Linked DNA regions of Homo sapiens. The protein of the gene in region 2 purifies or fractionates together with the protein of the main gene of each other region. This does not show direct contact. Each region holds a gene or a part of one and is shown on either strand. Other genes may lie near its edges. The genes, in order: EDRF1, CHORDC1 and TTC4.

The links.
Region 1: the proteins of CHORDC1 (region 2) and EDRF1 purify together in Homo sapiens (affinity purification with mass spectrometry; 3 studies listed by BioGRID and IntAct, with this or other methods). This does not show direct contact.
Region 3: the proteins of CHORDC1 (region 2) and TTC4 purify together in Homo sapiens (affinity purification with mass spectrometry; 2 studies listed by BioGRID and IntAct, with this or other methods). This does not show direct contact.

Annotation. Positions count from the first base shown.
Region 1 is NC_000010.11:125,735,118-125,745,664, reverse strand, and holds part of EDRF1 (erythroid differentiation-related factor 1), read right to left. Parts: intron 10,022-10,547; coding exon 9,761-10,021; intron 7,748-9,760; coding exon 7,676-7,747; intron 7,371-7,675; coding exon 7,220-7,370; intron 5,203-7,219; coding exon 5,014-5,202; intron 4,665-5,013; coding exon 4,464-4,664; intron 3,446-4,463; coding exon of another isoform or gene 3,426-3,445; exon of another isoform or gene 2,751-3,425; intron 2,608-2,750; coding exon 2,389-2,607; intron 939-2,388; exon of another isoform or gene 814-938; intron 127-813; exon of another isoform or gene 1-126. UniProt on the Homo sapiens protein: Transcription factor involved in erythroid differentiation. Involved in transcriptional activation of the globin gene.
Region 2 is NC_000011.10:90,210,859-90,221,405, forward strand, and holds part of CHORDC1 (cysteine and histidine-rich domain-containing protein 1), read right to left. Parts: intron 7,327-10,547; coding exon 7,277-7,326; intron 4,373-7,276; coding exon 4,316-4,372; intron 3,318-4,315; coding exon 3,160-3,317; intron 2,563-3,159; exon of another isoform or gene 2,498-2,562; intron 461-2,497; coding exon 357-460; intron 1-356. UniProt on the Homo sapiens protein: Regulates centrosome duplication, probably by inhibiting the kinase activity of ROCK2. Proposed to act as co-chaperone for HSP90. May play a role in the regulation of NOD1 via a HSP90 chaperone complex. In vitro, has intrinsic chaperone activity.
Region 3 is NC_000001.11:54,732,861-54,739,860, forward strand, and holds part of TTC4 (tetratricopeptide repeat protein 4), read left to right. Parts: intron 1-768; coding exon 769-850; intron 851-4,721; coding exon 4,722-4,804; intron 4,805-7,000.

The DNA.
Region 1 (10,547 bases), on a different chromosome or scaffold from region 2:
AGTGTAAACCTTAGCACTGTCTCTTGATGAGATAAGAGGAGGATGGCAGTGACAGGAGTGTGGTGGCGAGCCAGTCACCTGCAGTCAACCACGGCTCATTGCTCTCACCATGCCTGTTACATGAAGGTAAACGTGTCCATATGAGTTCATATGTTGAAGCCCTAACCCCTAGTTCCTTAGAATGTGACTGTATTTAGGACAGGTCCTTTAAAGACGTAATTAAGATTAAATGAGATTGTAAGGGTGGGATCCTAATCCAGTATGACTGGTGTCCTTTTAAAGAGGGAGGGACTCCAGGGCTATGCACAGAGAGAAGGCCCTGTGTGGACACGGTGACAAGGCGGTTATCTGCAAGCCAAGGTAGAAACATGAGAGGAATCCAATGCTGCTGCCACCTTGATCTTGAACTTCCAGTCTCCAGATCTATGACACAATAAATTTCTCATTATGTCACCTAGTCTATGATATTTCATTACAGCAGCCCCAGCTCACTAACATAGCTTGATGAAGTCTCTCACCATCCTGCTCTGCCTCACCCAGGATGGGAACCATCCCTTTGTCCAGCACATTCATGCTGTATGCACGGCCCACCCATTAGTCACTTAGTAGCTGTCTGGGTTATCAGATGACTGTTACAATATTGCTGTGCTTTTGTACAAGTAACCCTTATTTTGACTTAATGTCCCAAAGCACAAGAGTAACGATGCTGCCATACTGTTGTAAATGCTGTTAATCTCTTACTGTGCCTAATTTGTAAATTAAACTTCATCGCAGGTATGTATGTATAGGAAAAAGCACTGAAAAACTCTCCAGTTTCAGGCATCCACTGGGGATCTTGGAACGCATCCTCCAAGGATAAGTGGGGTCTACTGTACAACACTTAAGTATAACCCTCTTCACTATTAACCAAATGATATTAAAATAAGCAAAGAAAAACATCTGAGCAAAGTGCCATTTTGTGAAGATCCAAAAGCGTGGTCCCCATGGAGTCTGAAGAGATTACAACCTGTGTTGTATCCAATTTCCCTAGCTTCCTGACTACCACTTTCCAGGCTCCCTCACTGACTGCCCCCTCCAGATGCACCGTAAATGCACAGGTTCTCCCACTAGCAATGAACTCTTTGAGGGCAACATTTGTATCCCTAAGTGCCAAGCATTATTCACAGATCAACAGGCACACAGGCTGGGTGCAGTGGCTCATGCCTGTAATCCCAGAACTTTGGGAAGCCAAAGCGTGAGGACTGCCTGAGGCCAGGAGTCCGAGACCAGCCTGGGCAACCCAGCAAGACTTCATCTCTAAAAAAATTTTTAAAAATTACTTGGGAGGCCGAGGTGAGAGGATTGCTTGAGCCCAGGAGTTCGAGGCTGTGGCAAGCTATGATTATGCCACTGCATTCTAGCCTGCGCGACAGAGTAAAACCCTGTCTCAAAAAAAAAAAAAAAAAGAAACAACCAAAACCAAAACCAAAGGCCCACAGATGTTCAGCTTACCTGCTCACCTCAGTTCTACCTCAGCCCCTTTCTGTTCTGTCCCTGTGTCCAGGCTTTACATTCTTATCTATTCTCACGGCTTCAACTATTACCTTTATGTGAATGGTTCTCAGTCTGTCTCACTAGCCCTACAGCTCTTAGCACACTTCAAATTGACTACAAATTATACCTTTCACATACATGTTCCATAGTGAACTCAAATTCAACATGGGCCCAAATGGTTTACCATCTCACATCTTACTTACACCATCCCACATCTTACTACGCCATCCCACATCTTACTTACCCACTATCCCACATCTTCCTCACACAGGCCTCTTGCTCCCTCTAAACGTACACTTGCACCCTTTGAGATCCCTGGCTTCTTCCTCACACCGCCTCCTTGGTCTGGAGTGCCCTCCTTTCCTCACATTTGCCGGCTGATGCTCTACACATCCTGCATCACCCTGCTCAACAACACTTTCCCAAAAGCCTTCTAACTTATAACCTCCATAAATGTCTTATTTCCCCAGTCTCCCATTATACTTCGTCGGTACTCATCCACAGCATTTTGAGGCTTTGTGTTCCTATCTAGCTTCCCAACATGAAGAGAGAACCATATTTTAGCCAGTTACATATCCAACATAGAGCCTGGCACATGGCTGGATGTCCCATTTGCTTCTGAATTGATCAGATGGAGTGAGTACAAAAGTAAGAATGAAGAACATTGAAATAATTCATTCCAAGGGAAAATCATGTGTTCCTAATTCTATTTCTTAAGAATAATAAGAGGTTCTCTAATAGAGCACCTCTTTATGATATAAAATCAAGTGCCACAGTTCTTTGCTTGACTCATACAAAATTAGCATAATTTTCTGAGAGAACAAGCAATAGAGAGGAATCTAAAGAGATACTCACCTAGTCTCTCACTCTGTAATGCAGCAGCCTGATTCATGTAAAACACACCAATTTCATTTCTAATGTTACCCATTCTCTTTAATACTTGTACATAGTGTTCTGGATTTTGGCTTTTCAAGTCACTAAACTGCAAGATTTCATTAGCAGCCTCATAACATTTACAACTAACAGAGAGTTGACTTTCTAAGTCTGTAGACAAATCAGTTGCCCATGCAAATCCTGAAAAGAAAAAAGGGATACATCAATGCGAATCATGTGATTCCTTCTTCCTCAGTATCCAAATGAACCTGAGATTCTAAATTCTAAGTAATAAAAAATGCAATATAGTGTAAGTATACCAAGATTCAATCAATACAACAATATTTAAGTTTCATAATAAAGATCTATTTATTTATAAAATTATATTTCTTGGGATATTAATGTTGGATAAAAATATTTTCCTGCCTATGAATATCAAACAATTTCTGTGACCCAGGTTTTCCCAGGTACACTTGTTTATTAGAATGGACCTAAAGTTGTCCACTAATACAAAGTAAAGTTGCTATTTTTAACTAATGGAAATAGTTCTTGAAATAATGTCCCAATATTAACTTTAAGTCACTGAAGAGGCTGCTACAGAAGCCCTCGAAGATTAAAAATGCCATCTAGTGGGGACTAGAGTAAAAAGAATATTTAACTGAAATTGCTATGATGGGAGTAGTAAAAATACACCAAGGACTTTCCTACTACATTAAAACATGATTATTTGAGAAAGACGGAGAGAGGGGAAGAAAGGGCAAAACTATTACAAAATAACACATTTTTCCCTCTCCCCCAGTATACTCCTCTAGCTATGAATTGTCTAAAACTCTGGGAGGCAAACATCAAGTAATATTCAGTATAACAATTTAAGAGCATAATAAAACAACCCCATGAGACATTACAGAAGCACCTTCAGAAGACTCATCTTTTACTTCATTCACTGTGTTAATGGCAGCGTGGTTACACACTGTGCTGAGGTAAGAGGGAGGGATATCGCTGCTGCGGATCAGATTATTCTACTTCCCAGTTTTAAAGCCTGACAATTCCAAACAGAGTGACATATTAAGCAAGACAGGTGGCTATGAACTAACTTTAAAAACAATGATCACTTTATTTCAGCCCCAAGGAATCATTCAGAAGGTTAATTAACCTCCTTCACCAACTGTTATACCTTTCAAAAGGAAACCTATGGCTTTGTTAGCTGACTACAAGTGTTACCTAGAAGAACCTCATGAAAAGAAGAGTGTAAAAAGCTGACACAAGGCTGGGTGCAGTGGCTCGTGCCTGTAATCCCAGCACTTTGGGAGGCCAAGGTGGGAGGATCGCTTGAGTTGAGGAGTTTGAGACCAGTCTGGGGCAACGTGGTGAAACCCTGTCTCTAACAAAAATACAAAAATTAGCTAGGTGTGGTGGCGCATGTACTAGTCCCAGCTACTTGGGAGACTGAGATGGGAGGATCACTTGAACCCAGGAGGTGGAGGTTGCAGTGAGCCAAGACTGCCCCACTGCACTCCAGCCTGTGTGGCAGAGCGAGACTGTGTCTCAAAAAAATAAATAAATAAAATAAAATAAAAAGTTGACACAACTGTCTTCATATCTTACTTTATATTTAGTTCTAGTTATATAAACAGTAATTATAAAATACTTAAAAACCATTTTATACAAATACACAAGATCATGCTTAATCTTAAAATTAGGAAATGAATAAAACAGCAGGCCAGGCGTGGTGGCTCACACCTGTAATCCCAGCACCTTGGGAGGCCAAGGTGGGCTAGCCGGGCATGGTGGCGCATGCCTGTAATTCCAGCTACTTGGGAGGCTGAGGCAGGAGAATTGCTTGAACCCGGGAGGCGGAGGTTTCAGTGAGCCAAGATTGCACCATTGCACTCCAGCTTGGGCAACAAGAGCGAAACTCCGTCTCAAAAAATAAATAAATAAATACAGAGCAAATATCAAAACTCTAATATTTCTACCCCTTTTCTGAATACTCAAATAAGCATGAGCTAGACTGCACAGTCCCACTGTGAACCACGTGGTCCAAGCCTGTGGCACACCTTGGCAACTGGACTCTCTGTGAAGGCTATGCAGGATCTCCTGGTCTTCTTTTGTTTGGTAATGAAACTCTTCAAGGTGTGCTGCTCTATTATTTGCATTCTGGGCCAGCATTAGTTGGATATCACCACAAAGTGTCAAATATTGAGAGAGAAACAACAGCACTTCGGAAAGCATATTGGTGCAGAGGCAGCAATAAGTATCTGTTTAGAAAGGGAGGGAAGAAGAAAAAACACAAATGCAGAAAAAAATTAATGATCATAGGAAATATGAAGAAACTGTGTTACCAGCTGAACGCTTTGTAGCACTGTATCTATTCTGTTTATTTTAGGTCCAACAATACATATTACGGCTTCATGTAGTTCAAAGCAAAGAGATGTTAAACCACTGAGCAGAAACTAAAATAGAAGGTAACACACACAGGATTGGAAACAGTCATTTTAAAATAAAGATTTACTAGAAAAATAGGAGTAAACTTCCACTGTGATTCAGATGCCTTCTCTGTTCTCTCTTCCCAGTGCCTATTAAACATATTCATTTATAGTGGCTTACCATGGCTTTGCAAAGCTAATTTAATGTATCGTAATGCTCTTCCGTATTTCTGAAGACTCATGGCAGCATCGGACAAAACATAATAGGCCTTTGATGACTTGAGAATCAGCTGAAGTTTCATTTTATGTTGCCAAGAGCCAGGGATCATTCCAGATTGACTGGAATAATTGCCCTTCTGAAGGGAGCCCACTGTGACATGGAGAGAAAAAAAAAGACAGCACATTTCATTTGACTGTAAGTCTCATGCACAAAAAATATTTTCTGTTTCTTGATGGAAACACTCTAGACTTAGGTGACAAGACTGGTAAATACTATGCTTTACTGCTTAAATACACTGGAGTGAAATGGCCGTGTTAAAAGACTCTCACTTGGGAGTTCTAAGGCCTTCTGCTTCCCTGACATCGGCAACTCTGTCATTCTCTTCCAGTGTCACTGACATAGCTAACCTCATGAGTGACACCTGTCTCCTTTTTCCAGTCTATGTGTCAACCTGTCAAAGTTTACCTTCCTAAAGCACAGCTTAGATCAGCGTGAAAGCCTGTCCTCAAACATGAAAACGGCTTCTCCCCACTTAGCTAGTTGCATGTTTCTCAGTCTCACTTCCTACTTGTCCATCCTACTACCCATCAGCCAATGTTAAGTTACTGCTTGTCACCTATAAACATGCCTGTTTTTCCTATCTCCCATCTTAGTTTACTGTTTCCTCTACAAGGAATACTCTTTATTTAAAGTCCAGCCCATCGCTACCTTCTTTACTCAACAAATGATCATTTTTCTGCCAAGTACTGTGCCAGGCACTGGAAACTGTGACATGAAGTTATATGGCCTCTATCCTTGATAACATAAACCACAACAAAATATGTTAAGTGTAATTAACAGACAAAGAACAAAATACTGTGGAAAATTTTGCTCTGCAAATAACAAAAACACCCACCCCTTCCCCCAGCCTGAAGGTTTCTCATTTTTTAATCAGCTAGAACACAAGTCTTTCAAGGCAATGAAAGGTACTTAGTCTTCATTATGGTTTAATGTGTGTATGGATTTTTTTCCTCTGCTGATATAAGCATCATCTGTGAGTAAGAGGCATTGTGAGAAACTAAAATTAAGATGAAGTTCTTGTTCACAACCGTGTGTGTGCATGTGTGTGTAAAACCATTTAATGCTGGAACTCTGACATAAGGCAGGCTCACAGGACAAAGTGGTAAGAGAATCAAGTAATTCTGATGGAGAACAGAGGGAAACATGGAGATTCTGAGCTTGAGCAGGATTTTCAACAGGGGAGATGGAGAAGGAGACAGAAAAGGCATTTCAGAAAAAAAGAATGGCAAAAGTCCTGGTGTGATCTCCTTACTGCCTGTAGGCCGAAGCCTGGCATACCAGCAGCACTATATAAATGCTGGGGAAATAAATCTATTCCTCTCCTACCTCCACCATGTTTGTTCAGGAAAAGAAGAAGGGTCCAGAAAGCGCTTCCACTATGATTCAGATGTACTTCAAACATACAGGCTTTCTACACTTTTTTTTTTTTTAAACAATTGAAACTGATTTAAAAGGGGGAAAGAAATAAGGTTGGAAAAAGAAATACAACTTAGGTTAAAATAAGAAATTCACAACTTCTGCTTCGAAGTCCATATATTCTTCATGATGTTATATTCCTGAAGAACTAGATAATTTAAAAGTGACATTTGTAGCTTATTCAAGTACTGTGCAGTAACAACAGCCTACACTTCTATAGTGCTTATTATGTACACTGTTCTGAGCACTTTACATATATTAATCATTTAATCATTTAACAACCCTTTAAAGAAACCATTATTATCGTCTCCATTTTGAAAGAGATAAAAAGTGACTCAAAGAAGTGGAGCAACTTGCCCTCGCAAAGCCAAGATATGAAGTTAGGCAGTCTGGCTAAGTCTGTGGCTCCTACACGATCCAGCGAGAACTCCACCAGGCTGAAGCATTAGTTCCCCACTGTGGGTAACAGGAAGATGCAGGCTCCTTATGCTCTTATTAGAAATGTCCATGAAACATCAAAATTATCCTTTTTATATTTCAAATGAAAGAATACTACCCCTAATTCCAGTTCACAGGATATCTTTTTCTCAATGCCTTTCAATTAATGCCTTAATTGACATAAGTCTGCTGTTGATAAAGAACCAGTGTATTATTCTATTGAAGGCCTTATTTGCACATCAATTCAACTTACTTTTGTCCAAAAACAAGGCCATCTGCTTCTCTAGCCCCTCGGGACCCCCTCTTGAGGATTCATCTTCATATTTTAACGGGATTGGAGTGCTGGGGTCAGCTGCTGGAAGGTCGCTTTCTTTTTTGATGCTGCTATCGACAGATTTTAAACCCTGCAAAAAAAGGAAAAGCATTCACTATCTATCTAACTTCAGGTCAACTGAAAACTAAATATAAGACAGTATCTGGACTACTGAATACGTTTAGGAAAATTTCCATCTCACAAACAGACTTTCAAAAACTATGTTTGATCTGAAAGATTTGGGAAAAACAAATCTGATTTTCACTTTATGCTTAAGGAAAAAAAAATCGCAGCAGAACACAATTCAGAATAACATTTAGATACCAACAAACAAGTGTAATTTGCATAATCAAGTACAAACTTTACGAAAAAAGTGAAGACTAAACTTAAACTTACCTCTAGAACATAGCTAAGCACAAGTCTACAGCGCTCTTCTGTGTCATGGCAAACTGGAAATGCACAACTGGGCTTGAGGAACAAACATAAAATTATTAATACACTACCAATGTATTAAGGTCAACATATTGTTTTTGTTGAAGATTAAATTACTGTAAGCATTATCAACAAAAATCTTGCTTAAAAAGATCCTACAACATATATGTTGCTTTAAGTACTTACAATTTTAAATACAATTCTATTATGACAAAAAAGCAAGAACTAGAGTAGTAATGTTTTAGACAAATATAGACATCATCTAATAGGTCAGCTCCACTCATAATTAGCACCGATACTGGACAAAACACAATTAACAATTAGCGTCAATTTAGAAATAACAAGTATCACCAATATTCTCGTTGTTTAATTTATTTGCTTAATTAAGGAGCAAAAGCAGCTAGCAACCTCCAACTATGAAGGATATTATGTGTAGGGGCTTCTGTGAAGCATTTCATTTCGCTGAATCCCGTGGGGTTGGAATTACTGTTCTCATTGCACAGAAGAGAAGCATGCACAGACAGTTTAGCAATTTGTCTGAGGACACGGTGAGTGAGTGGGGAGCTGGGACCCTGGAGCTCATGCTGACTGTCCATACCACAAAGTCATTCAATGAGGATAAGGAAAGGCTAACTAAAGACATGTTTATATGAATACTAAGACTGCATTTTTTGAGTGCTTCAGATACGGAACAGAAAGTGCTATCTGTGAAAAATAGTGACACTAACTCATTACATCTTTAATTATTACCTAATTGCCCCGTAAGTCCATGGCCTAGTGTTACAATGCAGTTTTCCAGATACATGTAACTTTTGCAATCAATGATTATAACCAGAACATTTTTTCACTCCACTGTGGAAGTTCAAGCTGAAAGTGAACTAAAATTTAGATGGACAGTTAATGACTTTTTCCTGCAGTCATTTAGTCAAATATTTACTGAGCACCCATAATGTGTTCTAGACATGGGAGATAGAGGGTCTGTACCTGCAGGGAGCTTACGTTCTAGTGAAGCAAGACAAACATTAAGAACTTCAGGAACAGATAGGCTCCTTGAAGGACAAAAAAGTAGAGCATGCTTTGGCCAGAGTGGTCAGGGAACATCTCCCTGAAGAGGCAACATTTCAGTCAAGACTTAAGCCTTAAAAAAGGCAGCCATGAACAGACCTAGGGTAGGTACATTCCAAGCAGAAGCAACAGCAAATACAAAGACCCTCCAATGAGCATAATCTTGATGCTTTTGAGAGAAAAAAAACCCAGCATGGCCACGGCAAACCAATGGAGCAAGTGAAGGTCAGAAAGATGGTCAATGTTTTAAGGTGACAGACATAGCCCCTCAAAAACTTGCTTAGAGTTTCCATCTGAAAGTTACACTCAGTGCTTAAATTAAGAGATTATCTGTAAATACGACTGTATTTCAGTTCAGGGAACAGCCAGAACTCTTAAGGCTGGCCTGGATCTAATCATAGGGAGACGGTATGTTGAAAGGTATATACTGCCTGGAGATACACTGATGGTAGAGTCAGTGCAATCCACACAGGGAGAAATCTGTCTGGCCCTCTCCAGGGCAGAGACATGTCCAATACAACAGACATGACCACAAGAGTCACGAAAAAAGTACTGTCCTATATAGCACAGGGATAATGTACCAGAGCTCACCATATACAGTTCCAAGAGCCACCCCCTTCTCTACTCTATGTTCACCAAGCAATCTATATATGTCATTTCCCAGCAACCCCAACACCGGATAGAAGTGCCCTAGTAATGAGACATGACTATGACTACACACTGGTCACTGGAAAGGAAAATCCTTCACATAAGAATAGACAGACACCTGGTTTACACACCTGTCCACTATAGGCTTGCATAATGTGGGTCAGTTACCCTCGAACAATTATAAAACCAACTTTAAGAATTCAGAAAACTAATGATTACTAGATGCTAGACCATGAAAGGTTTATTGAAGTAATGGTATCTTTTGAAAGGCTAACTATATTCGATTAACAATTATGTTTCCTTGATAAAAATTTAATATAAATTCTAAAGGCTTACTCTGATTTGATGAATAGATTTGTATTTTTCTGGTACTGATAGTTCTCCAACAGACTTGATTATAGCTACTGCTTTGCTATCATCTGATGGATCAGAGCTGGTGCTATAGGATCCATTTTCATCACTGTCGGGCATCTCTTCCTCCTCTTCACTATAACTTTCATCAGAATTCTCATTTAAAGGAGATTCTGAATTTTCTTCCTTTTTAGGTTCATCCAATTGAAAAAGTTCTGAAAGCATGTAATTGGCGGAAGCAATAATCTTATGAAAAAGAGAGAAATATGTGTAAATTACTGTCATCAAAAAATACATGAATTTTACTACCATACTAACGAATTTTAGGAGGAGGTCTGCACACAGGCTGTTTCCACCATATAGACTGTAACACACACAGAAATGTTCCCAGTTCAAAGCTACTGATACTCTGGGTATGCTCTGCAAAATCTTTATAGGCTGATGCATTTCCTATTTCCCGAAATTACTCCACCCTGAGCCCTCCCTCTTAAAAGGTGTCAACTGAATTTCACTGGAGACAAACAAAAGCTTTTGAGTACAGAGTGTCATAACTAAAATATTAACAAAAATTTAATACCACCCTATGCCAAGTGAGAAACCAGAATTTTTCTTTACAAACTATAAATTAATTCAAGTTTCTCTATAATAGGTAACTAATATTTATCATATAATCTATGGTTCTAGAAAAAAAAAACCATTACATTAAAAAGGGAAAAGTCCATTCTGATATCTCTTAAAATTAGCATTTATATATGACCATTTAACCCATTCT
Region 2 (10,547 bases):
GTTTTCCTCCCATGGTACCAGGTATAAAGTCAGAGAATAGTGAATATATTTTGTATAATGTACAAGAAAACATTTTAAAATATCAAAGAAATTTAGCTGATTCTTAAAAAAATAATGAACCATAAAAGAAAAAAAATTTAATATAGGTTCTCGTTTTGAATAAAGACATATGGAATTAACCTATTAGGTTCTGAAGTATTTGTAGTTTATCATATCTGACATTTAGAAGAAAAAGTTTCTTAACTACAATGTGCGACTTTTCCCTATTTATATGCAGTAAACTACTATTCTCTCTTTTGGATAACTGCTTAACTGTACCAGAAAATAATTAACAATAAAACAAAATAAAATCTTACCTTTCTTATTTTCTTCATTCCCTGATGACAGTTTAAGTTTATCAAGTGCTTGTTTTAGGGAGGCAGATATTTTTAATTCCAAATTTGTCATTGGTTCATCTGGGCTGGAGAATTTTGAAACCTTATTACCATTATTAATATACCAAAATATTTCTTTGTACTCCAAATTAATAACCTTAAAAGCTTTCTGAGAAGCCAAATGCTTTGTGTATCAAATGATTCCCATTAAAAGGTTAAAAGGTATTTTATAAATAATTGTTACAATGTATCTACATTCTGTCTTAACAGAAAAGCTCCTTATATTAGAATAGTAAGTCTCAAATAATCACGCTATTGTCAGCATATTTAAGTATTAATCAGTTGCACTAACGAGAAAGGAATAAAGACTAGGAATCCAAGGTTTTCAAGATGAGTAATGCTGAGGAAGGGACCATAATGTACTTTTACATCCCATGCCCAAGCTCAATGCTGAGCACATAATAAACATGAAATATAAGTAAGTTCTAAGTGAATCCATACTCACTTCTACCAGTGGAGATAATTTATGTGGACACTGGCATATGGATCTGTAAATTCAGATACGATCGTATTGCAAGGCAATTTCAGTAGGGTTTAAAAAACAACATCTTCTAACATTTCATAATGGCTAAGTGTTGTATACATAATTTAAGTCCACTCAATAAATAAGTATTAAACATATTAATAAACACAGCAATAAAAATAAAAATCGTAGGCTATTCATTCTATATCCTCGATGAAAAAACTGACAAAAGAGGCATTTTAAAAGTACATAGGCAAGGCATGGTCGCTTATGCCCATAATCCCAACACTTTGGGAGGCTGAGGCAAGAGGACTGCTTGAAGCCTGGGCAACAAAGTGGAACCCTGTCTCCGCAAAATAATAAAAAATATTAGTCGGTCACTGATATGGTTTCCCTGTGTCACCAACCAAATCTCATCTTGAATTCTAGCTCCCCTAATCTCCACATGGTGTGTGACAGACCTAGTGGGAGGTAACTGGATCATGGGGATGCCTTTTTCCCATGCTGTTCTCATGATAGTGAATAAGTCTCAGAAGTTCTGATGGTTTTTTTCTTGCCTGCCACCATGTAAAACATTCCTTTATTACTCGCTCTACCTTCTGCCATGATTGTGAGGCCTCCCCAGCCATATGGAACTGTGAGTTCATTAAACCTCTTTTTCTTTATAAATCACTTAGTCTCGGGTGTTTCTTCGTAACTGTGAAAATGGACTAATACAGTCATAGTAGCATACACCTATAGTTCCGGGGAGGGTTAGGGAGGAGGATGGCTTGAGCCCAGGAGTTAAAGGCTGCAGTGAGCTATAATGCCACTGCATTACAGCCTGGGTAAGAGAGGGACTTTTCTTCTTAAAAAAAAGAAAAGTATGTAAAAACTGATATCCTCATAATTGTTATAATACCACCAAATGAATTTAGGATAAAATATTTAGTTTTTCTCATCTCACTGCCTTTGTCCTTTTTTTTCAAAAAGTCAATCTCAAGATCCTCCTGCCTCAGCCTGAGTAGCTGCAACTACATGAGCACACCACCAAACCCAGCTAATTTATTTTTTTTGGAGAGACAGGATCTCTTTCAGATTGGTTCTCAAACTCCTAGGCTCAAAGGATCCTCCCTCCTAGGCTTCTCAAAGTGCTGGATTATGGGCTTGAGCCACAGTGCCTGGCCTCTCACTGCCCTTTAAGTAAAATAACAGCCCATCATTTAAAGAAAAAATTAACTCATACTATTATAGTACAGACTGTATTATATTACTAAAGAGATTAAGAATGAGCCATGACTGAAGTTTTGTCTTTTCCCAATTATTTTTCTAACTGCTAAACTGGCCAAAGCATTCAATGGTCTCCTCTAACTATGAAGATGGAGAGAGAATAAAATCATCCTGAGTAGTTTCCTTAGCAATAATCTGTACTCAGAGTGCTAATGAACAAATAAACATCTAAAGTCTCTTAGGGTTCTTATCTTGGTTCTATATTATTCAATACTCTATAAATTTATTTAAGTAGGATCAAAGGAGAATAAAGGGAAAATCATGAGTTCATAGCATGAATAAAAATTACAATAAGTGCCTACTTGCAGCCAAAAAAAAAAAAAAAAATCACCTTTTTTTAAGTCCTGTAGTTTGCTTCTAAAACAATTTAGTACTCAAGTGTAGCACGAAGAAGACCTGGTTCAACAAAGGTACTCAATATACATGTGTGGGAATACAGAGTCTGGTTATCAGAAGGCAAGTATGAAGAATCTGTACAACTCTATTGCACAATGAGCAAACGCTTTTTTAAGACTACTTTCACAAATATGTCATCTAAATCAAATGCATTAAAAATTGACCAGTAGTAATGAGATTAACGGTAGTTTTCAGGCATCTGAAAGTAAAGATGGATGATTAGGCCTCTGCATTATTTTCTACTTCAAACTCATGCCATGAAAAGGAAAACTGCTTCAAAGAATTTTACCATGCCACAGTGAAAAAGATGCACTCTAAGGCACAAGAAAAATGTGACTTCCCTACCCTGATGATACATGTCCCTGTAATTATGACAGTACAATATGCAAATCTGTTATGTAGTTATATTGTGTACATGCTCTCAAGTTGAAGAGAAATAAAAATTTAAGGCAGATTTAAGGGAGAAACCAAATGGTTCAAAGCTTGGTGGCCTACATAGTAGCTACAAATGGTATCATGCTAAATCATAAAGGAAAGTACCATGCACAAGTGCTACTATTCAAGTGTGACAAAAATATGTAACTGTATAAAGTATACCTTGGTCTTTTTATTGCTTCTACTGGCTTAGGGGCTTGAATGATGTGTTCCTGAAATTTGGGTTTTAATTCACATAGCTCCTTCTTCTCAGTAGTCTTGACTTCAGGTTTGACTGGCTCAGGTGGCTTCTCACTATTATGTCTACCTTTTGTACAGCCCTGTTAGTGAAAGATAATTCATTAAGAGCTATCTATTTTACATTTCATGATAGAAATATTATCTTTTCAGTTCTTTATTGATAGTGATTCTATTTCATGTTTTCTCCAGTTTCAATACATTGATTTTAAGAAATTAAAAACAGAACTCCAAATTTGCCATATTTGCTGAATCTCTGAATGACGGCTTTTTTAAAAAGTCTTTGAATTACACTTCATAAACATCTACTTATTCTATTAAAAATATGGCATAAACCTCTTGTTTACAGAAGAATTCTGGAGAATCTCACAAAGAACTGTAAAAAATAGTTATACAGAAAAATCTGTTACTCGAAAGGCCTCAATTTGAGACCTAGTTCTCAACATACTTATTAGTTATATGACCTTAAGCAAGATAATCTTTTTAAACCTCCATCTCCTCATTTGTAAAATGGAGGTAATGTCAGGTAAGATATTTTCTGAGAGAGTTAAATAATAAAATGCCTGGCACATTTGGCAGGTGATAACATTCAACAAACGTTAGCTACTTTTCTACTACATTCTACTGAATTATACATACTCTTTAACACCTCTGAAATGATACAATCAATAGCATTATCAGTTTGTTAGTAGCTTTAGTTTTCTTAGTGGTATATAAAGTGGTTTTATATAAAAGTGGTATGTAAAATATTTCAACAGCATCTTAGATAAAACTTTATCGTTCCTAACTGAAAAGGCTTTAAATTGTTGCTTACCACTTTCTCCTTGATGTTCTTTCAACATAACAGAAAGAACAAACCTAAAATGATAAGCAGGTAACTGATACCTTAAAACGTTAATTTCCAAAACAGATTCTTTATTTTACAAGCTGTGGAAGGGAGATGAGCTGCTTTTTGAAAGGTGTTATCTGCAAGTTGATGAAGACCAATCAATCTATATCAGAAATCAGACTCCTCAAATCTGAAGCTTTCTATAACATGTATTTTTAGGAAGATAATCTAGAAAAAATAATTAGTACTTACTACAATGCTTAAGAAATCAGAAAAATCAGTTGTTCTTCTCTTACAGCAAGACCAACCCTATGAAAAACAAGAGAAGGAAACTAAAAACTCTATTTGCATGAGAAACACGACCCACTAAAACACTCTACTTGCACTTATCTACTTGAATCCTGCAGTAACTTGCGTATAGAGTGCAAAATTTCAGTGTTGCATATAATTCACCTAATCAAGTAAAATGAATATTAATCTTTGATTTTTAAAAAGCCAATTAACCAATGTTAAAGTGATTTGTGCTATGCCCTATCATCAAGGGAAGCACCTTTATAAAACAAAAACTGTTTCTCTTTTCAACAATCGTGTCTGCTTTTTTTTTAGAAGAAAAACATGTTATAATTCCTAAAACTATCATATTTAAAGAATATTCAAAATAAGTATAGGTATTTTACTTTTAAAATCTATTAAGTTAAAGATAGTAACTATCTTTAGTTAATTTTAATTTCACAATAAGCATTCTATTTTCAGAACAACAAAGATTAATTAACACAGCAGCTAAAGCACTATTAAGCCTTTGAAGGTGATCTTTTCAGTGAGAAGCATAAAGACAGAGAAACTATTAGTATTTGTGATTTTTGAACAAACTATCAAGTAGTTTACCAAAAAATGGCTTTAATAATTATCTCTAAATTCCAATGTTTATAGAGCATAGGGAAACAAAAATGCAAAATCTCAAAACTTGGAACTTCAGATTAAGATTTGGGACTAAATTCAGATTAAGATGCAACTTTGCACACATCCGCCTGGACCTCGCTGATTTTCAAAAGACTGCATAAAAATATGGTAGTGATTTTTCTCATTATATGCACCTGTAGGTTCTTTTTCTTTAAAGGTAATTTCAAATATCCTATAATTCAAATTTTCCTTTAATTTGAAATTTAATTATCTTTTACTCCGAATTGAGATGTAGATCAATTACTACAACCTTAAATATAGGGTTTAAATAGCATCAATAATATAGTCAACAGAAAAGTTATTCTATAAGAGAAAAAGTTTTACTGTCTTAATCATGTACTAAATTATGTCAGATACTGTGATACACACATGTAAAATACAATACAGGCCAGCTGTTCCCAAATGCCAATCTGGATTCTATGCTAGTCTTCAGTACAATGAGAAAAGGAAAGATAAATTTAAGTTATGTGAATATAAGGTTGCTAGTTGTCTTTTTTCAGCAAGATTGTCCTTTTCTCTGAATATGCCCCTTCTAATATTAAAATAGTATTTCTTTTGTCAATGCAATGTTTAACTTCTTACTTGGTCAACTAGTATCCCTGTATTGATGTATACGCATTTTGTCTGAAATCTTCTGGACTGTGAAATCCAATAATCTTGGAAAGTCTAGGACTTTAAGAAATGGTTATAAAATAGAGACCACAATAAACACTACAACTGCAAAAGAGAGAGAAGCAAAAATACTTCAAAGTGAATTCATTAAGACTTGGAGTGATTAACAATGCGGTAAGAGAAAAAACGGGCAATGGACCAAATGATCAGAAAGTCAGTAGTATCATTACTAGGAGCAGTAAAGTTGAGAGGCAGACTACTTTTGGAATAAACGGTACACACTAGAAACTGGTTTGATGTTGCCAATGAGACACATAAATAGAAATATGTTGTAAGAGCCATCGGCGTAGAGGTGACATTTGAGAAAACCAATGAATGAACTGAATGAGAGAAAACAGCCAAAGGTTACCTTTAAGAGCTAAGAGGAAAACAGCATAGGGAAAAAAAGAAAAAGACACAGTAAAACAAAAATATCAGAAGAAATGGCAGTCTAGGAAAAATAAAATTCCACAAAAAGAAAAATAAACATTTCCACAGCACCACAGTTTCCACCACAACAAAGATTTGTAAAAACTAAAAAAATGTATGGAGGAATAAGGTCTCAACTTGCCCTACTGAATGTCTTCTCTGTTTTCCTCACTCAGAACTAACCAGACTAATACATCTTTTGTTAGATTTGGTGGTGTTAACAGTGAAGTGCCAAAACAGTCTAACTACTCTTTGGAAGGTATAATTAGACATTTAAAGGGCACCAACAATATTTAAACATGTTAAGACTGCTTATGTTCCTGAGAACCAAAGAAGTAGAACCTAAAACCATGGCAGCCCTACCACAGCATCATCTTTTGAGATATACAAAGGAAACTCTTTAAATGTATCATACTATCATGAATTTTAAAAAGATGACCAGCAAAAACCTAGTCAAACAACATTCCACCAATTCTCCAGAACATCCAAGAAGTATAGCTGGAAAACTCACAGGTCTGTCCCGAGATTGGCACTAAATGTTTATAAGAATCTTTTCTAAAATTCAGAGCTGTTATTAGCCAGTAGTGACAGACTGAGATTCAATACAACCACTCTATTTTCCCTCAAAATTAGAAAAGTGAAGAAATGGGTGTAGAAAATGAAAATTAAGACCAGGCATGGTAATCCCAGCACTTTGGGAGGCTGAGGCAGGTGGATCATCTGAGGTCAGGAGTTCGAGACCAGCCTGACCAATATGATGAAACCCTGTCTCCACTAAAAATACAAAAATTAGCTGGGCATGGTGGCAGGTGCCTGTAATCCCGGCTCCTCAGGAGGCTGAGGCAGAATCGCTTGAACCCAGGAGGCGGACGTTGCAGTGAGCTGAGATCGCACCACTGCACTCCACCTGGGCAACACAGTGAAACTCCATCTCAAAAAAAAAAAAAAAAACCCAGAATTAAAATACAATTTTATAACTGGAAAAGACCTTAAGATCATCATCTACTGTCTTTTCTTTGTCTTTAGTGGAGTATACGCTTAAAGCACCTCCCCCGCAAAGGTCATTAAGAAGAAAGTCACTAGCTGAGAAAAAAAGATGAGAAAATAAAGATTTAGTATTACATCTCTCAATTTACTACACAGATATGAAAAAAATGAAAATATAGTTCCTACCTTTAATGCATCGTGAAAGACCGGAACACCTGGGTGGTATGTGCAAGCATCTGGAGAAAACAGAGAAAAAAAAAAAAGTACCACTCTTTATAATGAAGAAAAATATATACATGATCATCTCCTTAAGGTGTTAACCTTTAATCCTTTTTCCAAACGCAAGTACCTTAAAAAGGTACAAATGATTGAGTTTGACGTGCAGCACAAAGTGTACTATATTAAAATAGTATTAAAAATTCTAATTCAAGCATATGATGACTAAGGACAAAAATACAGAATTGTTTATGTATAACAATTATATTTTATATTCCCCTAATCTTGGTAGTAAAATTTGTTTAGTACCAAAACTTCAAACCCCCAAATTTTGACCATCATTTTTCAAACCTGCTTTTACAAATGTACTATCAAACTTGAAGTATTCTTATGTGCATTCATCCATAAAGGTTTCACAAGAGATTCCCTTAAAGACATTTTGTAATAACAGGCTCAACATTTTAAATACTGTAAAGATTTTTTGCAGTATCTAATTGGTAATTTAACTTTCCTAGACACAGTCATTCCTAGGTACAAACCTCACTAAAAAGAAGACTAGGGTGCCTCTGCCTGGCCCCTGCCCTGTTTGGGAAGTGAGGAGCTCCTCTGCCCTGCCCCCGCCCAGTCTGGGAACTGAGGAGTGCCTCTGCCTGGCGGCAGCCCTGTCTGGAAAGTGAGGAGCACCTCTGCCTGGCCACTGTGCAACCTTCCAAGTGTGAAGTGACAGCCTTGTGTGTGATCTTTCTGCCTTCCCCAAGTGTGCATTTTCAACATTAAAGTTTACTTTTTAATTAAAAAAAAAAAAAAAAATAGAAGTCTAGGTGGGCCTGGTGGCTCATGCCTGTAATCCCAGCACTTTGGGAGGCTGAGGTAGGCAGATCACCTGAGGTCAGGAGTACGAGACCAGCCTAACCAACATGGTGAAACCCCGTGTCTACTAAAAATACAAAAATTAGCCGGGCGTGGTAGTGCATGCCTGTAGTCTCAGCTACTCAGGATCTTGACAGGAGAATCGCTTGAACTTGGGAAGCAGAGTTTGCAGTGAGTCAAGATCATGCCACCGCACTACAGCCTAGGTGACAGAGCAAGACTCCATCTTAAAAAAAACAAACAAAAAAAACTCTCAAGTTCTACAGCCTATTTTCTAGATTCTCACTGGGTGTTATTCTATACTTCCCTCCCCACTACACCATCAATCTTTACTTCTCTTATGTAAATGGGTTTATTACAATTTGTGTTGGGAACAGGCCCCCAAATCTGGCCATAAACTGGCCCCAAAACTGGCCATCAACAAAATCTCTGCAGCACTGTGACATGCTCGTGACGGCTTTGATGCCCAGGCTAGAAGGTTGTGAGTCTACCTGAATGAGGGCAAGGAACAACTGTCCCACCCAGGGCGGAAAAACACTTAAGGCATTCTTAAACCACAAACAATAGCATGAGCCATATGTGCCTTAAGGACATGTTCATGCTGCAGATAACTAGCCAGAGCCCATCCCTTTATTTCCCGTAAGGAATACTTTTAGTAAATCTCCATTGGAGGCTCTCAGCTCTAAGGCTGTGAGACCCCTGATTTCCCACTCCTTACTATATATTTCTGTGTGTGTGTCTTTAATTCCTCTAGCACCACCGGGTTAGGGTCTCCACGACCAAGCTGCTCTCAGCAATTTGCAAGATGGAGTACTATATTTTTAAAAATCAGGTAACAGTCAGCTTCATCCCTCTGCAATCTGCTTAAAAGACTATCTTTCAACCTTTCAAGTCTATTTAGCTTTCAATGCTCTACAACAACCTTGTCCAACATGCCGCCCCAGACAACTCTGAATGTAGCCCAACACAAATTTCGTAAACTGTCTTAAAACATTATGAATTTTGTTTTTGTTTTCTTTTAAGCTCATCAGCTATCATTAGTGTTAGTGTATTTCATATGTGACCCAATTATTCTTCTTCCAATGTGGCCCAGATAATTCCTCTTCTTCCAATGTCGCACAGGGAAGCCAAAAGATTGAACACCCTTGCTCTATCACCTGATTCCTGGTGTTGCCTCAAAATTTACTACTGGTGCTCACAGAAATCTCCCTACCCCGTTACTAGCCAGTATTGCTTCCTTAGTAACCATGTGCTGCATAGATACTAGCTAATGTAGAAAGTGTTAGGTATCTTCCTGATACAGTAAGTAAATCCGTGGGATCAGAAAGATGTTATTAATTAAGGGTAGTTGTGGAATTAAGGGCTGAAAAAGGAGGTTGGAAGTAGAAATGGGTATGCAGAAGGACATGAAGTTGAGAGGGGAATGGAAGTAGAGAATAGATCCAGTATTTTCAAACACCAAATTTAAAGTAGTCAGAAACATAAACGCAATGTATAACAGAGTCAGAGGCATAAAATGTCACAATAAGTCAATTTTGGCAGCATGGCAGCAGGAATGAGTCAGATCTGAACCATACAACTAACATGAACACAATTAGAAAGCCACTGCTTTCAAAAACAAGAAGTAACAAGCAAATGGACATTCTTCATTCTTTCTTTAATATCCATCCTTTCTTTATCAGTTTTAAGAGTTTTGGCAAAATTAATATTTTATGGGTGAGAAGCTACAAGACAGTAGCAGTGGTTAAGTGTCCAGGGCTTCTAACATTGGGTCTGACCCTGGCTAAATTTCTCACTGAGCTACTCGCTAGTAGTTCCTTCAGTTTTCCTCGTATACGTCGATTAAAAAAAATACCGTTTGTGAAGCTGTGTTTATTCTAGAATAAGTGTTTAACATATGTAAGTTACCAACTGTGTCTCCCTTAAACACCCTTTAACTTCAGTTACAAGTTAAAACGTTCTATCAGCTTAAAAGGGAGTCTAATTTCTGTCTCTAGGGGGAAAAAAAAATCATGAGACTATAAGTCAACGAGCACGGTAATTATGCCACAGCACCGAGAAAAAAAGCATTTAGTGTAGATTAAGAAATATTTAAAGATGACAGATCCAACATCTGGCTTACGCAAAATGGAACTTGCTTGTGTATTTACCTCTTTTAACTTATTTCTGTCAACTGTACAAGGTCAAACCTCTTCCTAAAAAACCTCCTAACCAACCTTTCTATTTAGTTCTTGTCTCCTACTCCGTATCTCCATTTTCTTCTCCTTCCATTCACTCAATCAGTTTACTTGAAAAATGTATTCTAAGTCTCTAAAAAAACCGTCATTTCGCTAAAGTAAATATACTTATTGGAATTTCTCTGCTGTAACTA
Region 3 (7,000 bases), on a different chromosome or scaffold from region 2:
GGATCACTAGAGGCCAGGAGTTCAAGACCAGCCTGGCAAACATGGCAAAATCCCGTGCCTAATAAAAATATAAAAAATTAGCCGGGCATGGTGGTGCATGCCTGTAGTCCCAGCTGTCTGGGAGCCTGGGGCACGAGAATCACTTGAACCCAGAAGGTGAAGGTTGCAGTGAGCAGAGATTGTTCCACTGTACTCCACACTCCAGCCTTGGTGACAGAGCAAGACTTTGTCTCAAAAAAAAAAAGAAAAGAAAAGAAAAAAAGAAAATCCTGTCAGTCAGGTGCAGGGCTCACACCTGTAATCCCAATAACTTTGGGAGGCTGAGGCAGGAGGATAATTTGAGCCCAGGAGTTTGAGACCAGCCTGGGCAATATAGGGAGACCCCCATCTCTACAAAAAAAAGAAAAAAATTAGCCAGGCATGGTGGCATGTGCCTGTAGTCTCAGCTATGCAGGAGGCTAAGGTAGAGGAATTGCTTAAGCCCGGAAGTCGAGGCTACAGTGAGCTGTTATCATGCCACTGTACTCTAGCCAGGGTGACAGAGCGAGACCCTGTCTCAAAAAAAAAAAATAAAATAAAATAAAATAAAATTATGTCATAATAGGACAAGTGATACATATACACATTTGGGGTACTGCTGTCAAATGGGTTAAGCCTGCATTTCATGTTTTATACATTCTAGATAACTTTGAATTAGTGTCTGGGGACCGATGTGGGAAAATAGATCATGAGTTATTGATACCCAGAAAGTACATGTTTTATCCTTAGGTTTATTGATCATCTAATGGTGATGTTTGGTGAAACACCCTCTTGGGACCTAGAGCAAAAATATTGCCCTGATAATTTGGAGGTAAGAGAAGTTTTATTTCGTTCCTCTATGGAATTAATTTTTTTTTTTTTTTTTTTTTTTTTTGCGGCGGGGGAAGCAGTCTGCTTTATTTTTTTGAAAATTATAGTAAAATATACATGACATAATATTTACCATTTTAACCATTTTTAGGTATATAGGTCAGTGGCATTAAGTACATTCACATTGTTGTGCAACTATCACCACCAGCCATCTCCAAAACTTTTTCATCTTCCCAAATTGAAACTCTAAGTACTTCATATAAGTGGAATCATACAGTATTTGTCCTTTTATGTCTGGCTTATTTCACTTAGCATAATGTCTTCAAGGTTCATTACATATTGTATCATGTGTCAGAATTTCCTTTTTTTTTTAAATTTTTGAGACGGAGTCTCGCTGTTTCACCCAGGCTGGAGTGCAGTGGTGCGATCTTGGCTCACTGCAACCTCTGCCTCCCAGGTTCAAGCGATTCTCCTGCCTCAGCCTCCTGAGTAGCTGGGATTATAGACGCGTGCCACCACACCCAGCTAAGTTTTGTATTTTTAGTAGAGATGGGGTTTCACCATGTTGGCCAGGCTGGTCTCGAACTCCTGACCTCAAGTGATCCACTCACCTCCGCCTTTCAAAGTGCTGGGATTATAGGTGTGAGCCACCATGCCCAACCAGAATTGTTTTCCTTTTTATTTATTTTTATTTTTTGAGACAGAATCTCGCTCTGTCACCTAGGCTGGAGTGCTGTGGTGCAATCTCAGATCGTTGCAACCTTGCCTCTTGGTTCAAGTGATTTTCATGCCTCCGGTTCCCAGGTAGCTGGGATTACAGGCATGTGCCACCAAGCCTGGCTAATTTTGTTTGTATTTTTAGTAGAGATGGGGTTTTGCTATGTTGGCCAGGCTGGTCTTGAACTCCTGGCCTCAAGTGATCCGCCCTCCTTGGCCTCCAGAAGTGCTGGGATTACAGGTGTGAGCTACCGTGCCCAGCCAGAATTTCTTTCCTTTTTAAGGCTGAATAACATTCCATTGTTGGGATTTTTTAAATAAAAAATCACAATATCCAGTATAAAGAATTACCTTTTTCTAACATTTGAGAGTAGGATGCCAGCTGATGTCCCATTACCCCTGAATACTTTACTGTGTATTTCCTACACAAAAGGACATTTTTCTTTATAATACCCATATAGCTATCAAAGCAGGAAATTTACATTAATTCACTGTTACCATCTAACCCTCAGACTCCATTCAGGTTTCACAAATTCTTTATAGCAAAAGGGTTTTGTTCAGAATCACATACTGTATTTAGTGATCATGTCCCCTTAGTCTCCTTCAGTATGGAAGAGCTCCTCAGTCTTTCCTCCACTTTTTTTTTTTACTTAAAAAATTTTTATTCATATTTTTGTGATCCTGTGACTCAACTGCAGGACACTTTGAAGATTACAGACCACTTATTTTGTAGAATGTCTGTCAGTATGGGTTTGTCTCATGTTTCCTTCTGACTAGATTTGGATTATACATACTTGTTTGTTTGTTTTGAGATGGAGTTTTGCTCTTGTTGCCCAGGCTGAAGTGCAATGGTGTGATCTCGGCTCACTGCAGCCTCTGCCTCCAAGGTCCAAGCGATTCTCCTGCCTCAGCCTCCTGAGTAGCTGGGATTACAGCTACTCAGATACCACGCCCAGCTAATTTTTTGTATTTTTAATAGAGATGGGGTTTTGCCGTGTTGGCCAGGCTGGTCTCAAACTCCTGACCTCAAATGATCTGCCCGATTTGGCCTCCCAGAGTGCTAGGATTACAGGTGTGAGCCACCATGCCCGGCCTGGATTATGCATATTTGGCTGGAATATTACAGAAGTGATGCTGTATTCTCATTGCACCTATCAGATGGTACATAATCTCCATTTGTCCCATTACTCATGATGTTCACTCTGATCACCTGATTGAGGTGGGGTCTGCCAGCCTTCTCCACTGTACAGTTACTTTTTCTTTATGATTAATAAGTGTTTTATAGGGAGATGCTTTGAAATGGTGTAAATATCCCATTGCTCGTCAGATATTCAACATATTTATTTATATTGGTGGATTTATAGTTTCCTGTTTCATTTAATGAGTTTTAATCTGTTACTATGATTGTTTCTTTTATGCTCAGAATATCCCAGATTTGGCCAGTGGGAATCTCTTCAAATTTGTTTCTGTGTCCTTTTGACTTGTGTCTATTTTTTAAGTGGTTGCTTTCTTACATAGGATGTTCTAGGTTCAGATTGCGCTTTCCTTGCCCCAGCTCTGGAATTAGCTATTTTTTCCCAAGAAGCCCTGGTTCTTTCTAGTGAAGAATGGTATTTAGAAGCCGAGATCTCTGTGCAATAAGTGTATAAGTGTATCGATTAATACAATGGGGGTAGAGAGGCAAGCTTACTGCCTCAATGCCTTCTCAGTGCCACAGCTTGGGGGAGAAAGAGAGAGAAAGAAAGAAAGGAGAGAGAGAGAGAGAGAGAGAGAGAGAGAGAGAGAGAGAGAGAGAGAAGAGGAGAGGAGAGAGAAGAGAGGAGAGAGGAGAGAGAGAGAGAGAGACCATGAAGTCTCATTGGTATCTCCAACTCTTAATTCAACATCCACAGGATTTTTTCTCCCTTTCTATATTTGTAACAATGACTTTCTTCTTGTTCTTTTTTTGTTTTTGTTTTTTTGAGACAGAGTCTAGCTGTGTTGCCCAGGCTGGAGTGCGGTAGGGAGATCTTGGCTCACTGCCAAGATCAACCTCCTGGGCTCAAACAATCCTCCCACCTCAGTCTCCCAAGTAGCTGGGACCACAGGCGTTTGCCACCGTGCCCAACTAATTTTTGTATTTTTAGTAGAGATGAGGTTTCACCATGTTGCCCAGGCTGGTCTTGAATTCCTGGACTCAAGTGATCCACCTGCCTCAGCCTCCCAAGTGTTCAGATTACAGGCATAAGCCACCATGCCTGGCCTGACTTTATTATTCTTAATATAGTTATTTGTTTGATCAGTTCCCCTCCTGTCATCACCACTGGCCCCTCTCCTATGTGGAGCCTTCCTCACCCTACTTGGACTCTTGACTCCACATGTTACGCTGCTGCCCCAGCGTGGGCGTCTTTCTCACCCCGCACAGACTCTGACATCCCACACTGCTCAACGACCCTACATGGACATCCTCCTCATCCTGCTTGGGCTCTGACACCCTACAGCAGGCCACCCCCTGCCATGAGTGGTCACCCTCCTCACCCTAGTTGGGCCTGTAAACTCCATATTACTTGTCCCCATGCATGGATACCCTTTTCACCCCACATGGCCTCTGACACCCCACCTTGGACAGCCATCTTACAAGGGAGCACTTCTTCCCCTGCTCAGGCCTGCTGGCCCCCAGCATGGATGCTCTTCTTCACTGGTCCTGCTCTGACACCCCCGGGAGCTTCCTGTGCAGGCGTCTTCCTCACCCTGCTTGGGCTTTGACACCCTGCACAGACATCCTTCTCTCCTTCTTCAGGCTCTTTCCTTCTCTGAGCCACCATAGCTTTCTCCTCCACATACCTGATGGCTTTAGTCTGATTTGTTAGGGAAAGGAGGGCTACATAGGCCTGGCCTTGAGTCTTGATTCTTCTGTTTACCAGCAGGGTAATGTTGGCAAGTTGTTGTTCTTCTCTGAGCCTTGATTCTGTCTTTGGAAGATGGAACTGATAATAGCCTCTTTTACAGTGGCATGGCGGGGGGGTACTAAATGCAAAGCACCCAGCTACACAACCATATAAAGGAGGCATTCAACTACTAACCGTTGCCATCTTTTTAATTTTCCCTGGGCTTAGCCTCAACTAAGGCTGCCGAAGCCTTTATCTCTGACTCTTGCCCTTCTGTTAATCTTGCAGGTCTACTTTGAGGATGAGGACAGGGCAGAACTATACCGGGTGCCTGCCAAGAGCACCTTGCTACAGGTTCTACAGCACCAGAGGTGAGTCATCTCATGGCGCTGAGTAGATTGGGGAAGATGCTCAGTGTATTAGTCCATTTTCACACTGCTGATAAAGACATACCTGAGACTGGTCAGTTTATAAAGAAAAGAGGTTTAGTGGAGAACTCACAGTTCCACGTGGCTGGGGATGCCTCACAATCATGGCAGAAGGCAAGGAGGAGCAAGTCACCTCTTACGTGGATGGCGGAAGGCAAAAAGAGAGAGCTTGTGCAGGAAAACTCCCTTTTTTTTTGAGATGGAGTTTTGCTCTTGTCGCCCAGGCTGGAGTGCAATGGTGTGATCTCGGCTCACTGCAACCTCCACCTCCCAGGTTCAAGCAATTCTCCTGCCTCAGCCTCCTGAGTAGTTGGGATTATAGGCACCTGCCACCACGCCCGGCTAACTTTTGTATTTTTAGTAGAGACGGGGTTTCACCATGTTGGCCAGGCTGGTCTTGAACTCCTGACCTCAGGTAATCCACCTGCCTTGGCCTCCCAAAGTGCTGGGATTACAGGCATGAGCCACCACTCCCGGTCAAAAACTCCCATTTTTCAAAGCATCAGATCTCGTGAGACTTAGTCGCTATCACGAGAACAGCACAGGCAAGACATACCCCCATGATTCAGTCATCTCCCACCGGGTCCCTCCCACAACACATGGGAATCATGGGAGCTACAAGATGAGATTTGGTTGGGGATACAGAGCCAAACCATATCACTCAGGCACCATCCGAGGAGTAGAGCCAGGTTCTCATTCCGCTGCTGACTGATTGCCTCATACTCCCCTCCCTTCTGCCCTGAGCACAGAGCTGTGTGAGACAGCAGCCATGGAGACTGGCCGGGCCCATAAAACTCAGCCATTGGTCAAACAGGCTCCAGTGTGATGATAGCCCACTGCACCACAGCCATAACACTCCAGACCAGGGGAGATAAATAGGACTGGTCTTTGAAGGGAAAAGCTGCCTGGCTTTTTGTACATGAAGGCTGCTAGGATGGCCTTTTTTTTTTTTTTGAGACGACATCTCGCTCTGTCACCCAGGCTGGAGTGCAGTGGTGCGATCTTGGCTCACTGCAACCTCTACCTCACCCCCCAGGTTGAAGTGATTCTCCTGCCTCAGCTTCCTGAGTAGCTGGGATTACAGGCGCCTGCCACCATGCCTGGCTAATTTTTGTATTTTTAGTAGAGACGGGGTTTCACCATGTTGTCCAGGCTGGTCTCAAACTCCTGACCTCAGGTGATCCACTCACCTCGGTCTTCCAAAGTGCTGGGATTACAGGCGAGCCACTGCACCCGGCCAGCCTTCCTTTTCCTAATCGTACCTATACCTATGTCTCCTGATGCTCTTTCTTTTGTTTGCTTTTTCTTATTTTGAATTTTTTTTTTTTTAAATAGAGATGGGGTTTTACCATGTTGGCCAGGCTGGTCTTGAACTCCTGGGCTCAAGCAATCCACCCACCTCAGCCTCCGAAAGTGCTGAGATTACAGATGTGAGCCACCACACCCAGCCCCTAAAATTTTTTTTTAAATTATTTTTATAATAGAGACAGGGTATCTTCTCCAGGCTGGTCTTGAACTGGGTTCAAGCAGTCCTCCTGCCTCACCCTCCCAGGTAGCTGGAATATCAAGTGCATGCCAGTGACCCGGCTCCTGATACTGTCATATGAAGAAAGCATTGGCTCTTGAAGTCAGACCCATCATCATTTACTGGCTGTGTGACTCCAAGCACACGCTGCCTCTCTGGGACTGCCGCCTCATCTCTGGAATGGGAGTAATACATGCCTACACATTTCTCAAGTATTTGAGAGCCAATGACAGGATAGGAGTTGAAGTGCTGTTGTAAACTGCACAGGGCAGTCCTGCTATAGGAGGGCATCTTTGTCATTAGCAGTGGCAGCAAGTTGGATTTGGCAGTTGTCTCAGAGAAGCTGTGAGGTGTTCCTGGACTATAAGGGAAAGCCCTCAGCAGATTTGCAAATTGACTCTTGGACTACTTTTCCTTAAGCTTTGAGCAAAGCAAAGCAGAGAAAAGCAGATGCTTTTGCACTTAAGCTAAAAGAGCCCAATGTATTAGTGTAAAGAGAGTGGTTGGATGTGGTAGGAAATGAGGCTAGAAAGCTAAGTTAGGGCCATACACGAAGGCCTGAATGCCCTGCTAAGGAGCGTAAACTTTATCCTGATTGTGGTGTACACCAGGGT